Homo sapiens: one gene and its partner. The protein of the gene in region 2 purifies or fractionates together with the protein of the main gene of each other region. This does not show direct contact. Each region holds a gene or a part of one and is shown on either strand. Other genes may lie near its edges.

Region 1 (7,749 bases), on a different chromosome or scaffold from region 2:
TTAAAAAAGCACAGAAATGCAAATGACACTATTCTCTCAGGCTTTCACGCTTTCACTGTTTCTGGTCTTCAGTAGTAGCCCCCTGAACCTAGATAAAAGCAAATCTGTTGCTGAAAGTTAGTAAAACTTTTCCTTACATTCTATGAGGTCTTTCCTGGCTCAAGGCCTTTGCACACACTGTTCCTTCTGCCTGGAAGGCCTCATCCACTCCTAGCCTGATGGCTTTTACTCAGCTTAGGTGTCAGTGCCTCTGGCAGGCCTTCCTCGAACCCCCAAACCTAAGTCCAGTCTTTCCTTTCATAGAACCCTGTACTTTTCCCTCAAAGCCTCTAACATTTGTAACTTCAAATTCATTTGTGGGAGCATTTTTTAAATGCTTCTGCAAACTTGCAGCCCCCTTCAACCATCAGACTGTAAGTTCCAGGGACCCAATATATTTATTTGTTCATCATTGCCTCAGAGTGCCTGGCGCATAATATACCCTTTATAAGTAGTTACTGAGTAAGCGAATCCTGAAATTAAGCCTCTCTAAAGCAAATAGGTATAGGATTCTATTAGTCCCCTTAGCTGTGCCTTCTCTTCTAAAGTTTTAAGAACTGGCCGGGCGCAGTGGTTCACGCCTGTCATCCCAGCACTTTGGGAGGCCAAGGTGAGCGGATCACTGGAGACCAGCATGGACAACATAGTGAAACCCTGTCTCTACTAAAAATACAAAAAAAAATTAGCCAGGTGTGGTGGTACATGCCTGTAATCCCACCTACTGGAGAGGCTGAGGCACAAGAATTCCTTGAACCCAGGAGGCGGAGGTTGCAGTGAGCTGAGATCAGGCCAACCTGGGGCCCAGAGGCAGAGACTGCAGTGAACTGAGATCAGGCCAACCTGGGGCCCAGAGTGAGACTCCGTCTCAAAAAACAAAAAACAAAATAAAACAACAACAACAACAACAACAAAAACTTATCTCCATTCACATTGCCTTCAACAAGAAAGTGATTCTGGAAATAAGATAGAGTAATTCTTTGCAGTCTCATGTTTTAATCTTTTAAAGCAGTTTCTCAACCTTGGCACTATTAACATTTTGGGATGGATAATTCTTTGTTGTGGGGGATGCCCTGCTCACTGTAGAAAGTTAAGCACCATCTTTGAAAGTTAAGCACCATCTTTGGCCTCTATTCATTAGATGCCAGTAACATCAACTCCCCAAAATTGCCGGGTGCAGTGGTGCACACCTGTAGTTCTAACTACTTGGGAGGCTGAGGCAGGAGGATCACCTGAGGCCAAGAGTTCAAAGCAGCAGTGTGCTGTAGTTGTGCCTGTGAATAGTCACTGCACTCCAGCCTTGGTAACAGTGAGACCCTGTCTCTAAAAGAAAAAGCATGGTGGCTCACACCTGTAATCTCAGCACTTTGGAAGGCCGAGGTGGGCAGATCACCTGACATCAGGAGTTTGAGACCAGCCTCGTCAACATGGTGAAACCCCATCTCTACTAAAAATGCAAAAATTTGTCGGGCATGGTGGTGCATGCCTGTAATGCCAGCTACTCAGGAGGCCGAGGCAGAAGAATCGCTTGAACCCGGGAGGCAGAGGTTGCAGTAAGCCTACATTGCACCACTGCACTCCAGCCTGGGCAACAGAGTAAGACTACGTCTCAATAACATAAAACAAAATAAAATAAAATAAAAGGGAAGAAGAAAAGAAAGAGAGAAAGGGAGAAAGGGAGGGAAGGAGGAGGAAAGGAAGGAAGGAAGGAAGGAAGAAAGGAAGTCTTTAGATGTTGCCCCATGCCTGCCAATTCACCTGTGGTTGAGAACCACTGTGTTGAAGTGTGAAACTTCAGGCCTTATTCTCTTGTAGAAGAATTACATATAGAAATTCAGGTTGTTGAATGATTCCCGGGTTATAAGAGAATTCTACCAACCCAGTTGGATCAAAATAGTGCCCACCCCTATCTTGTTTCCGTAGCACTCCCTGCGTTTCCTTTGAAAAGACCATTAGTGATGGTCTAATTCAGGGAAATATTCTGATCTTGGGAAGAAAGAATGCTGGGCTGTTCTAGAAAGATGAAGGAAAGGGGTGGTGTTTCTGAGGAAACCAACGCCTCTGAGACCCCTCTGGAATTGGCAGTCCCCTACAACTTTTCTAGGGGCATGTCCCAGAGGACAGTGAAAGGGAGACAAACAGCCCATTCTGGCCTGCTTTTCAGGATCTCTCACTCCAAACAAGAAAGTCTGAGAGGCCTGGTAAAAATAAATATGGCTTAGTACTCCTGGCACAAGAGCAGTCTCTGACAGCCAAGACTTAACTCACCCTAGGGGGTGACCCAGACAGGGACTATGCACGAAGCTAGTTTCTTACCCATTGATATTCCCAGTGACTCACAGCAGCCAGGGATGACTCTGTGCACCAGAACTGTGCTGAACCGTGGAGAAGGACTTGGGATGCACATAGGAAACAGTCTCTCAAGCTGAGTCAGACAGGGACAGCCCGCCTCTCGTTTCTTCTCCAATTCCAGAAAAACAACACAAATCATGCCTCTGGAAAGGAACCTGTCCTTTGCATACAGAGTGGAAACTGTTTATAACTTCTTAATCCCCTGACATTGAAAGTATGGGGACTGCCTATCCTGGATTTCTTTGGGACAACTGTACTGGCTCTACCACAAGTCCCTAGTTTTCAGCTGGAAAAAAATATGGTCTCCAGAATCCCAAGGTCATTCCCAACAGATTTAAAAGCAAGTCTTCGGCCAGGCAGAGTGGCTCACGCCTATAATCCCAGCACTTTGGGAGGCCGAGGCGGGTGGATCACCTGAGGTCAGGAGTTCGAGACCAGCCTGACCAACATGGAGAAACTCCGTCTACGAAAAATACATTAGCCGGACGTGATGGCGCATGCCTGTAATCCCAGCTACCCTACTCGGGAGGCTGAGGCAGGAGAATCGCTTGAACCCGGGAGGCCGAGGTTGCAGTGAGCTGAGATGGCGCCATTGCACTCCAGCCTGGGCAACAAGAGTGAAACTCCGTCTCAAAAAAGAAAAAAAAAGAGCAAGTCTTCATAAGCAACATATATGAAACCCTGAGACCAACCAAACCTGCATTAGGAAATGAGAGGTGGGAAGGAGGATGCTGGGGAATCAGCCTCTACTTTTGACGTTTTTTCCTCCTTGGATTTTAGGCTGTGGTAACTGATCGAGGCCAGAAATGTTGACAGTCTTGCCTAGCCCCAAGATCATGTAAGCCTGACCTGACGCTACTGCCGCCTTCAGTCAGCAAGAAGAACTACACACCCAGAAAATGCTTCAGTAATAGTTACCATGGTGATGCTAGTTCAACCACATTGCATCTGGATAAAAATTTCAGGCAAAACGATATAGAAAACTACTGCCTAACAAGGAGTTAACACCTTACATCTTTTATGTTGTTGTTGTTGCTGTCGCAAAGTATGGTTCATGTTAGCTTTGGTAAAAGATGGTAATTTGAAGTGAAAGTACTGAAAAAAACAAGCAAGGATGAAATGTCAATGTATCCATTTAGAGAAATCTAATAACCACTTTGCACTATGCCAAATTACTTTCCCCTCAGCTAACAGGGGGCATTTGGGTCTTCCTGACTCTATTTACTGGTGAGGAAAGTGAGTTAATGAAATCCATAGATGATCCAAGCCCAAGAAATGCTGGCATATCAGCTGGGAGGGAAAAAAGCGATATACTGGGCCATCAGAAAGTTGGGCATTTGGGCAAAAGGAACAAAACAAGATTCAACCTGGAAAAATGGAAGGTGGTGAAATTAATCCGTATTATTAATATGCATTAGGGAGAGTAGACCACAAAAGGAAGGAAGACTAGAGACAAGTTTATGATTTTATGCAGTAAATCAAAAGTTAAATCTGAGGGAAGGACCTACAGACTGGGGCTGGAAGGAGGCTGAGGGCTTTGTGGGAGTGCAGCTGCCCATGAGGACTCCTTTCCTGACCCCCTCCCTTCCTTGTCAGGATCAGAAAGTCAAAGAAGGTGAAGAGGCTAACAACAGTGATTTACAAAGACAGCAAGGAGGAACTAAGTCTGTATGGGCCGAATCTGGGCCTCTGAGCTGGAGCAACAGGACCCAGACAACCATCTCAGGAAATGAGTGAATGAAAAGGGGCGGGGGGGTCGGTGAATTATTTAGCCCTAGAACAACGCTGCCTAGACCGGGGGAGGCCAGGGAGAAGAAAATCTCCGAAAAGGAATTTTGACAGTGAGAACGCCAGTTAAGATACAGCACTCCAGGCCCCCTGATGTCCCTTGTTTGATGTCAATAAAGACCCAAGAGGATTATGCATCCACAAGCCTTGCGTATTCGCAGACATCAAAAAAGTCTGGACTTGGGGCCGGTAGGCGGGGGCAGGGTCACGTCCAGGCGACTTGGGTCAGCTCAGGTGCTCGTCTGAAGCATAGAGCTGGAGTGAGCGGGGGCGAGACTTGCTGCTAGGATAATTTTTTTTTTTTAAGTTAGGGAAATTTAAGCAGTAGTAATAGCGACAGGGAGGGGGCTCTCTCTCGGGCCAGGAATGTGGGGGCGGCCTGAGGAGGAGCGGGGCCCCGCGCAGGAGGCGCCGGCGGGTGGGGTCGGGGGACCAGGGAGCCGGGGCCGAGGGCGGGAAGGGGCCGGGCCGGCGCTGGGGGCGGGCCCAGGCGCGGTGGCGGTGGCCGGGGCTGCGGCGCGGGGGGCGGGGCGGTCGGGCCCGGGACACCCCCTCCCGGTCCCCTGGCGGGGCAGCGTCGGCTCTGGCAGCACTGGAGGCGGCGGCGGCCCGAGGGCGACTTGCGGGGCGCGCAGGCCGCCGTGCACCCGGGACGCTTCCCCCTCGGGGACCCTCCGCGGGCTTCTCCGCCGCGCCGTCCGGCGGGAGCCGGCGGGACCCCGGGCGAGCGGCGCGGGCGGCACCATGAGGCGGCAGTGGGGCGCGCTGCTGCTTGGCGCCCTGCTCTGCGCACACGGTAAGCGGCGCCCGCCGGGAAAGTTTGTCCCTGGGTCCGGCCGCTGCAGGACTCGCCTCCCGGGACCTGGACGGCGCGGGCCGGGGCCTGAGACCCCTCGCCCTCGCTCCTAGCCGTGGCCCTGGGGCTGCGTGCAGGGGAGAGGACCCGGAGCGGCCCCGGCTCCAGCAGTCCGAGCGGGGGCATCAGCGGAGGCGCTTCCGCGGGTTCGGGTCTGGGCCGGGGCGCGGGTCTGGGCCGGGGCGCGGGTAAGGTCCGGGGCGTTCGTTCGCTCGCCCTCCCTCGCTGCTCTTTCAAGAGCGGGGGCTGCTTCCCTTTCAGGTTAGGTCGGGGGCTCTGTGTCCTTGGTGCGAATGAATGCGTGCGAAGAAAGGGAGGCGGGTGAGGAGGGTCGCTAAACCCATAAATTGTAAATAGCCCTCCTTCCTGGGGCTGGGGGCTCGGGCGGGTTGCGGAGAGAGGCCCCGGTAGAATCTGGTACTTGGGCACCGGGATTCCTCTACTCGGAGAACGATTCCCGGACTCCAGGTCTTGCTCCCACCAAGGGGCTCTGGGGCACTGTTTGCGGGCAGCATCTCCCCTCGGCGGTGTTTCGGGGTCCCTCTCTTGGCTGCGGCCAGTCAGCTTCCAGCCCTGGATCGTCCTAAAGGGAGGTGGTTGGAAAGGGGGCTGAGGAGGAATATAGGGAAGAAACTGCTGGAAGGCTCCCGCAGATCTGCCCTGGCTGGGGTAGGGGGGCAGGGGGCCGGTAACCCTGAACCCCAGAAGGCAGCCGCCGGGCCCTCGCGGCAGGGTCCCAGCCCTCGGGGGAGCTGGACGGCTGCAGCAGGACTCCTTGGTGCCCGTACCCCCTGTTGTGTGGGACTAGGGCTCCGATGGAATCTGCTTCTCCGCGGGCTCTTAACGACCCTGGGTGCACCCCGTGATTGAGCAGCTTTCCCTAGTTTGTGCCCAGAGATCAAAGAACTTTGATCTTTGAACCCCAGCCCTATTCACCCATCGCTATTCATCGTGGCGGGAGTTCCGAGTCTCCCCATTTGCCTCGCAGCCCCGATGAAGGGAGCTGGGGCTCAGAATGGAGGGGTCTGGAGACCCTGCCTGGTCTTTTACCGGTTCTTTCTTTCACGTAGGACAGCTCGTGTGGAAAAAGTCAGTGCAGATTTCCGAACTTGCCTGGCAGGGCGTGGAGATGTCTAGGCACTCGTTTTAAAGATTGGTTTACCTCCCAAATCCAAAACAGAGTTTTCATGTCTCTTATTTAAACTACCTGTGGGTTTTCAGGGGCTTTTTTCCGCGTCCTCTCTAGCGCGGACTGAGCTCTTTCTCTCCGAAGAGCGGTAGCTTGGCCGGCCCACGTTCCGCTCCGCTCTGCGCTCTCCCCTCCCCGGCTCTCTCCTGGAAGGTTATTTGTAGCCTCTTTGGCGTGTTGGGACAGCGGCCCTACTGGGGTAGGAATGTAGCTGTTCTTCCCACCACATGGGCCCCTTAAAGGGACAGCTTTGCTTTTTGGGGGGTTTCCCCCTTCGGGTTGCAAGGAAAGGGGATGGAACTTTCCTCTCAGCCCCCTGGAGGAAGTTTTGAAAAAGATCAAGGGAAATGGCAAGGCACTGGGAAAAAAAAAAAAAATTAGGGTTAAAACGGATACCAACAAAGCCAGAGAGGAGATTGTCGCCTTCTGCCCTAGGGAAGGGGGAGCTGGAAGGTTCCGGGCTGAGACTGGCCAAGAAGATTTTACTGCTCCAGAGCTGTCAACGCTGCAAATATTACATGTGCATAGAGGATGGGGGTGAGAATGGGGGGAGAGAATTGCGTATGTCTAATGTTTCACAGAAAAAGAATGGGAGGATTCGCGGTAACGCTTTTAGGTTTCTTTCTCTTTTTTTTCTTGGAGAGGGTGTCTCACTCTGTTGCCCAGGCTGGAATGCAGTGGGGCAATCATAGCTCACTACAGCCTCGACCTCCCAAGCTCAAGTGATCTTGTCATCTCAGCCTCCTGAGTAACTGGGACTACAGGCATGCACCACCATACCCTACAAATTTTTGTTTTTTTTTCTAGAGATGGGGTTTCACCATGTTGCCAAGGCTAGTCTCCAACTCCTGGGCTCAAGTGATCCACCTGCCTCGGCCTCCCAAAGTGCTGGTATTACAGGTGTGAGCCACTGTGTCCGGCCCAGGTTTCTTTTTAAGGAAAAAAGTTTAATAGAAACGTCTAAGCATGGGAAGCTTTCTGTGCACATGTTTGTAAGGGTAGGCAGTGGGGTGAAGGTATACACATCACCTGGCCTGATACTGAGCCATCCTTGGAGGTCTGGGGGGTCAGATTCACAGTTCACCAGTAAGATTGAGCAGTTTCAGAGCCTGGAACCAGCACAACCAAAAATACCACCAAAACATCTTTTGGACTGACACTCAATTCCAGGGGCTCAGGGAGACAGCAGTTGTGATAAATGTAGTAGTAGATCCATTAGGCAGACCTGACCTCAGCAAGGCATGAATTAAAGACACTAAAGTTTAAGGTGATTTTGGGAGGCTGAGACTAGCGGATCACTTCAGGTCAGGAGTTCAAGACCAGCCTGGCCAACATGGCAAAACCCCATCTCTACTAAAAATACAAAAATTAGCCAGGCACAGTGGCACATGCCTGTAGTCCCAGCTACTCGAATGGATGAGGCAGGAGAATTGCTTGAACCTGGGAGGCAGAAGTTGCAATGAGCCAAGATCACTCCCCTGCACTCTAGCCGGGGCGACAGAGTGAGACTCTATCTTAATAAATAAAT
Region 2 (7,023 bases):
GACCATCAGGAAACGTTAAGGGCCTCCATGAAGTTACTGGTCATGAATTTAAAGTGACAGTTCAGCCTGGTAATATGCTTTCTCCTGATCATTTTTGGTGCAGGAACAGAGAAGGCAAAGAACTGCATTTAGTCAGAGATGAGGTTTTGCCAAGCGAGCATGACAAAGCAAGAGAAGGGCAAGGGAGTTAATGGAGACTGTAAGGCATTATTTTAAGAATTAACCATAGAGTTTATGCTGGGTAAAGGAGGAGGGGTGGGCATTTTCTGTTTGAAGCATATCTCTCAAAGTATGGTCCATGCTAAAGATCTGGCCATCACCACAGATAGCCAAAATCAGAATTTGTGCAAGAGAGAAAACTCTTCTTTTTACAAGCACACTATGTAATTCAGACACATGGTAAAGTTTAAAAACCAAGAATGTAAAGGTTTTGCTATTAATTGCTATAGAGAAACATCTAGATAGCAACATCAGCAAAAAAAAAAAAAAAATGTATGGACCCTTCCATCAAAGCTTAGGACTTACTGTTTACATTAATGCCAATAAATGCATAATTCAAGTTCTTTTTCCAGTAACTACTTCACACAGTCCTCTGAATAGTTGTAAAGGATCCTCATCAAGGCCACTTCCAAGAGCAACCCCAAATTCCACTTCACTAACCTACCTAGCCACTGACCCACTACACAGCTCCCTTTATTTCTTAAAAAAAAAAATTTTGGAAGCTTATTCAGATTCCCCTCGAGTTGGCTTTACACCATTATTTTTATTTCTTTAGTAATTAAATTCATATTTATAATTCATAAATATGAAATAAAATATAGAAGCCAGTGCTCACAAAGAAAAAAAAACAGAATGCTCATCAAGAAAAATCTGCACAACAGATTCAACAAAGATGAATGCCTTTGTGTATATTTACTTACGAAATAAAAGTTAAAAGAAACATCTAGCTATCAAGAGCAAAACTAAAGAAAAAAAAACTTCACGTTTAAAGACATGATTACTCTCACTGCCATCAACATACTTTTTTTTTTTACTGTTTATTTCACATTATCTTTTTCACAGATGTATGAGATTCTCAAAGATCTGTGCCAAGGGCAACATAACTTCAACTGTATTAATACCCCACCTAGCCATGGGCCCACTAAACAATCTCCATTAATCTCTACAGTCCATTGTTGGAAGCTTATTCCAATTCTCTACCAGTAGCCACAGGTCTTGTATGTTTCTCCCAGGCTGCTTATCTCTAATCATAATGGCCTAATACAGGGATATCCTCTTTTCCAAACTTTCCTAACACCAAAGTGTTCTACCACCAGCAACCCCACGATGCAGATACAGCCACTGTTGTTCAAGCCTGAAAGGGACCAATGCAAAGGTTAAGTATTTCCATTTTCTACCCAGAAGAGATTATGTAAACACGGTCTTTAAATGTATATAGATTATAATGGAGTTTATGTTGAAACAGCTGTTAACACATGTAAGGTGATGAAAAAAATACAAATGAAACTCAAATTAGGTTGGAGGCTGGGCACAGTGGCTCACTCCTGTAATCCCAGCACTTTGGGGGGCCAAGGCAGGCGGATCACTTGAGGTCAGGTGTTTGAGACCAGCCTGGCCAAGATGGCGAAACCCCATCTCTTCTAAAAATACAGAAATTAGCTGGGCGTGGTGAGGCGTGCCTGTAATCCCAGCTATTCGAGAGTCTGAAGGAGGAGAATCGCTTGAACCCAGGAGGGGGAGGTTGCAGTGAGCCAAGATCACACCACCGCACTCTAGCCTGGGTGACAGAGCAAGACCCTTTCTCAAAAAAATATATAAAATTAGGCTGGAGATTTGCTAGGCATAAGAGCCGTAAGACTGCCAAGATAAAGCTCATGAGGAGTGAGAAGAAGGGGTGAGAATAACTGGGGAAGGTTTCACAGTGGGAGTAAGACCCTGGAAGACACGCACTATTTGGGCAGATGAAGAAGGTATTCCAGATGTAGGCAGCAGCATGAAAAAATTCCCAGAGGTAGGAATGAGCACAGCATGTGGAAAGGTCAGTGAAGGCACAGCTACGGCTGAAGCAGAACAGGATCCCTGGAGAAGAACAGGAGGTATGGCTGGAGAGGAGCACTGGGGACTGACCAGGGATGGCCCAAGGACCTTGACTGGCTTCTTCTCCACAGGGTGCAATTTCTGATGCTGAACAAAACTTCCATACCATTTGAAGGCTTTCCCACACACCTTACATTCATAAGGCTTCTCCCCAGTGTGAACTCTCTGATGCTGAATGGAGGCTATTTTCTGGGTGAAGGCTTTGCCACACTCCTTACATTGATAAGGTTTCTCCCCAGTATGAATTCTCTGATGGACAATAAAAAGTGACCTACAACCGAAAGCTTTCCAACATTCCTTACATTTATAGAGTTTCTCTCCCGTGTGTAATCTCTGATGCTGCAGGTATGCCGCACTCCTACGGAAAGCCTTTCCACACTCTTTACATTCATAGGGTTTCTCTCCAGTGTGGATCCTCTGATGTTGAGTCAAGGCTGTGTTGGAACTCAAACCTTTGCCACACTCCTTACATTCATAGGGCCCTTCTCCAATGTGGTTTTTCTCATGTACAATACAATCATAGCTGGACTTGAAAGCTTTGCCACACTCCTTACACTTAAAGGGCTTTTCCCCAGTATGACTCATCTGATGCCGAATAAGCTTTGAGTTATATCGGAAGATTTTCCCACATTCTTTACATTCATAGAACTTCATTCCACCTCGAAGTATCAGATTTGGATTTAGATTGAAAGTCTGCTTCAGTGCCTTCCTTTTAAAATCAAAGTGCTGAGAAACGTTCCTGAGAAGTCCTCCTACTGGCATTCTGTGCAACTCTGTTTCTTCAGAGGCTTCCTGCTTTATAACTAGCCCTTCATTTTTGATCCAGGACTCACCACCTGACCAAAGAAACCACAAGTGTTCCTAGTTACAAAACTGGAAGAAAAGTAGGATCCAGTGTTCCTAATTTTCTCTTGTAGAATGTAATTTTTAAAGATACCTGTGAAATGGTTATATACAAGCATCTATAAAGGAGGATGAGAGAGACAAAGAAAAATAATGACAGGCCAGGTGTGGTGGCTCATGCCTGTAATGTTGGCACTTTGGGAGGCTGAGGCAGGCGGATGGCTTGAGCTCAGGAGTTCGAGACCAGACTGGGCAACATGGTGAAACCCCATCTCCACAAAAAAATACAAAAATTAGCCGGGCATGGTGGCGCACCCCTGTGGTCCTAGCTACTAGGGAGGCTGAGGTGGGAGGATCACTTAAGCCCGGGAGGCAGAGGTTGCAGTGAGTGGAGATCATGCCACTGCACTTCAGCCTGGGCAGCGGAGCTAGACCCTGTCTTAAAAAAATAGAAAAATAATGACATAGAATTGGAGAAGTAAAGACACAGAAATGGAACAGGAAAGATAGCCAGGAAGTGCTCCCCACGAGGAAGGCTGGAAAATTGAACTAAGGTAGGTGATGGGAAGAAGGAGAATCAAGAATGAGAAGGAAAGAAGGTAGGAGGGACAAAAAAGAAAAAAGAAGGAGAGAATAAGAAAGAACAGTGAGAAATGTGAAAAATGTTTAAAGAGAGACAGAAACCCAGAAGAGGAGAAAGGAATGAGAGACTGGGAAGAATAGAGAAGCAGCTCCAGCACTACAAGAGGTCTTGCAGACTGAGAAACACAAACCAGGAAAAAACTAGATCCCAAAGCCCTACCTGTAACCCAGGCAATCACCCCAAATTCTAAACAATGTCCTAATTATCCTATATTTAAATATCCCACACAATATTCAGGGATACAAGATGATTAGTTTCAGAAAGTCAGCTGGAACAGAAGTTGGATCAGAGAGCTGTAAGCCACTGTGGTACCTGTGCTAAAGGAACCACTATATACAAAAGCATAAATGTGTGAGAAGGCTTGAAAATTTTCTTCTGAAGAAATGGAAACGCAAGTAAACAAAACCTTCCAGGACTGGTAAGCCATCTCAGGGAAATTTTAGGTGGTGTGTGTGTGCACATGTGCGTGTGTGCATGTGTTTGTGTGTATGCATGTGTGTGCGTAGGGGGCTATGATGGGAGAATATTCCTAGCCCTTTCCTCTACAGTCCCATCTATGGTAAATATAATGTAGATCTAAAGATTATGGCAAATGAAACTCTTAAGTGATTTAGATACTAAAAAGGCAAATTAAAGCCATTCTTTTCAGGGCTGAAGGCCTAAAGTAAAATTTATAGCTATAGCACAAATAAATCAGTTTGGCCCCAAAAAATCATATTTTCCTTAAATTTGGCTGAAACCCCACTTCTTTGCAATGAAAAATGGCATACAATTAAAACTTTTCCACCAGTAAGTAAGAAAGAAGTGGTTTAGGAGCTACTGGGTCACAGCTTTTCTGCCTTGGAGGATAGCCACATGAATGTGCAGACAGCATGAGGCCATGTACTCCCAGAGGTGGTCTTTCAAAGCTCAGGGTCAGAACTCAGTGTGAGGTCAGAGAGTACAGTGAGTATCGACTTATAAATAACTGGGAGATTTGTACCCTGCAGCATAAGAAACACTTCTTACCTAGTAAACCAGGAAGGCAAAACAAGAAACTTCACCACTGGATTCTCATACTCACCTTGACTGATGCCTCTCAGAATCTCGGTGTCCCAGGGATCTGGGCCCCATGGTGCTTCCCCTCTCTCCAGGTGGGAGATCAGAGCAGGTTTGGGGAATGGAAACGCTACTTCATGAAGAAAAGAGAAAGACAAATTGAGGGGAGACGTCCAGAGCTATTCCTGGGATCTTTCTCAGCCCACCCTCCATCAGGCTACTTGGGAGAGAAATTGAACACCAGCAGACCAAGTGAGAGTTCTGACAAGGAGGTCCAAACTGTGCTCCACGATAAAGCCAAGGAGGTATGATTCTTCTCAGAAAGAAACTGCATTCTGGCCCTGACTCAGAAGAAGGCAAACTCCCTCAGGAAAAATGTACCTACTGCTCCCCTGGGAGAACCTTCCACAAAGGGAGGGCCAACATCCCCAGAAAACTGGATGGACAAAGGAACAAAGGGCTCACTTAGGGTGCCAGAAAGAATGCTTTCCCTCAGGGCCCAGGACCACACTGTTCCTGGAGTATAAGGAAGTCTAATTTCAAAACCAAAGAGAAGCCAGGCACAGTGGCACACGCCTATAGTCCCAGCTACTTGGGAGGCTGAAATAGGAGAATTGCTTGAGCCCAGGAGTTGGAGGCTGCAGTGAGCCATGGCTATGCCACTGCCCTCCAGCCTAGGTGACAGAGCGAGACTCTGTCTCAAAACAAACAAACAAACAAAACAAACAAACAAACAAAAAACAAAGAGAACCAAGGATTTCCCTACCCAGTATTTCTGGAGGCTGCTGATTGCAAAACTCTCCTCTGAAGTCATCAAACCCAAGGGCTACTAGAATCCCCAAAACATCTGAGGAAGATAGCAAACTGTTACAAAGGGCCACAGAGGGAGGCCTTACCCAGAGAAGCCACATTTGCATAATTCTCCAGCATCACCTCCCCGTACAGGGCCCTCTGCGCAGGGTCGAGGCTGGCCCATTGATTCTGGGTGAAGTAAACAGCCACATCCTCAAAGGTCACTGACTCCTGAAACAACAGGTTCCTGCTCAATCTCTGAGTGAGAAGTAGAAGGAAGAAGGGAGCAGCTTGAGCTTCAGGGAAGGGATAAACCTGCCTGCATCCACAACTCTGAGCCCCATGTAAGGTCTGCTCAACAAGAACACCCACCACCACAGCCAGGGGCGAGCCCTCAGCCAGTAGTTCCACTTTCAAATGGGGAGCCCCAACACTCTCCCATCTACCCAGCTCTGGAGCCCGTAACTGCTGCTGATTCTTACAGCTTGGCACCCAGGCTGAGATTACAGGCATGTGTGAAAAACTAGCAAACAATGTTTTGGAGAAAACAACTGAAAACAAAATGAGGGGGAATTAAACTGTATTTTAAAAGGATAACACATTAAGAAAATGAGAAGACATGCTAAAGTCTAGGAGAAAATATTTGCTGAAGACATATCTGATAAAGCACTATTATCCAAAATGTACAAAGAACTCTTTATGAACAAGCCAATTAAGAAACAGGCAAAAGACCTCAACAGACACCTCAACAAAGCAAATATACAGATAGCAAATAGGCATATGAAACTATGCTCAAGATTATATGTCATTAGGGAATTGCAATAAAAACAGTGAGACACCACTACATACCTATTAGAAAGGCCAAAATCCAAAACACTGACAACACCAAATGCTGGCCAGGATGTGAAACAACAGAACTCTCATTCACTGCTGGTGCTAATGAATGCGAAATGGGACAGCCACTTTGGAAGACAGTTCGTCAATTTCTTACAAACTAAACACACTCTTACCATACAACCCAGCAGTCATGCTCCTTGGTGCTTAACTAAATTTAGGAGTTGAAAACTTATGTCCACATAAAAACCTGTACATGGACATTTACAGGGGCTTTTATTCATCATCGCCAAAACTTGGAAGCAACCGAGATGTCCTTCAGTAGGTGAATGGATAAGCTGTAGTATATATAGACAATGGAATATTATTCAGCACTAAAACAAAACGATCTATCAAGCCATGAAAAGACACAGAGGAAACGAAATGCATTACCACTAAATGAAAGAAGTCAATCTGAAAATGCTACGTACTGTGTGATTCTGGCTATATGACATTTTGGAACTGGCAAAACTATGAAGAGAATACAAAAATCAATTGATGGTTGTCAATTGGGACGGGACTAAGGGGAAAGTAAGGATGGATAAGAGGAGCATAAGGTATTTTTAGGGCAGTGAAACTATTCTGCTTATATAATACTATAATAGTGGATATGTGTCATCCATCAAGAGTGAACCCTAATGTAAACTATCAACTTTGGATGACAATGATGTGTTAGTGTAGGTTCACTCCTTGTCACAAACGTGTTACTCTGGTGTGGAATATTAATATTGAAGAAG

Evidence for each region. The genes of interacting proteins can lie anywhere in the genome.
Region 1: the proteins of ZNF621 (region 2) and LRP4 purify together in Homo sapiens (affinity purification with mass spectrometry; 3 studies listed by BioGRID and IntAct, with this or other methods). This does not show direct contact.

Annotation. Positions count from the first base shown.
Region 1 is NC_000011.10:46,915,551-46,923,299, reverse strand, and holds the start of LRP4 (low-density lipoprotein receptor-related protein 4 precursor), read left to right. Parts: upstream 1-4,749; 5' UTR 4,750-4,920; coding exon 4,921-4,972; intron 4,973-7,749. UniProt on the Homo sapiens protein: Mediates SOST-dependent inhibition of bone formation. Functions as a specific facilitator of SOST-mediated inhibition of Wnt signaling.
Region 2 is NC_000003.12:40,527,940-40,534,962, reverse strand, and holds part of ZNF621 (zinc finger protein 621), read right to left. Parts: intron 5,645-7,023; coding exon 5,518-5,644; intron 5,469-5,517; coding exon of another isoform or gene 5,388-5,468; intron 4,755-5,387; coding exon 4,647-4,754; intron 2,934-4,646; coding exon 1,873-2,933; 3' UTR 1-1,872. UniProt on the Homo sapiens protein: May be involved in transcriptional regulation.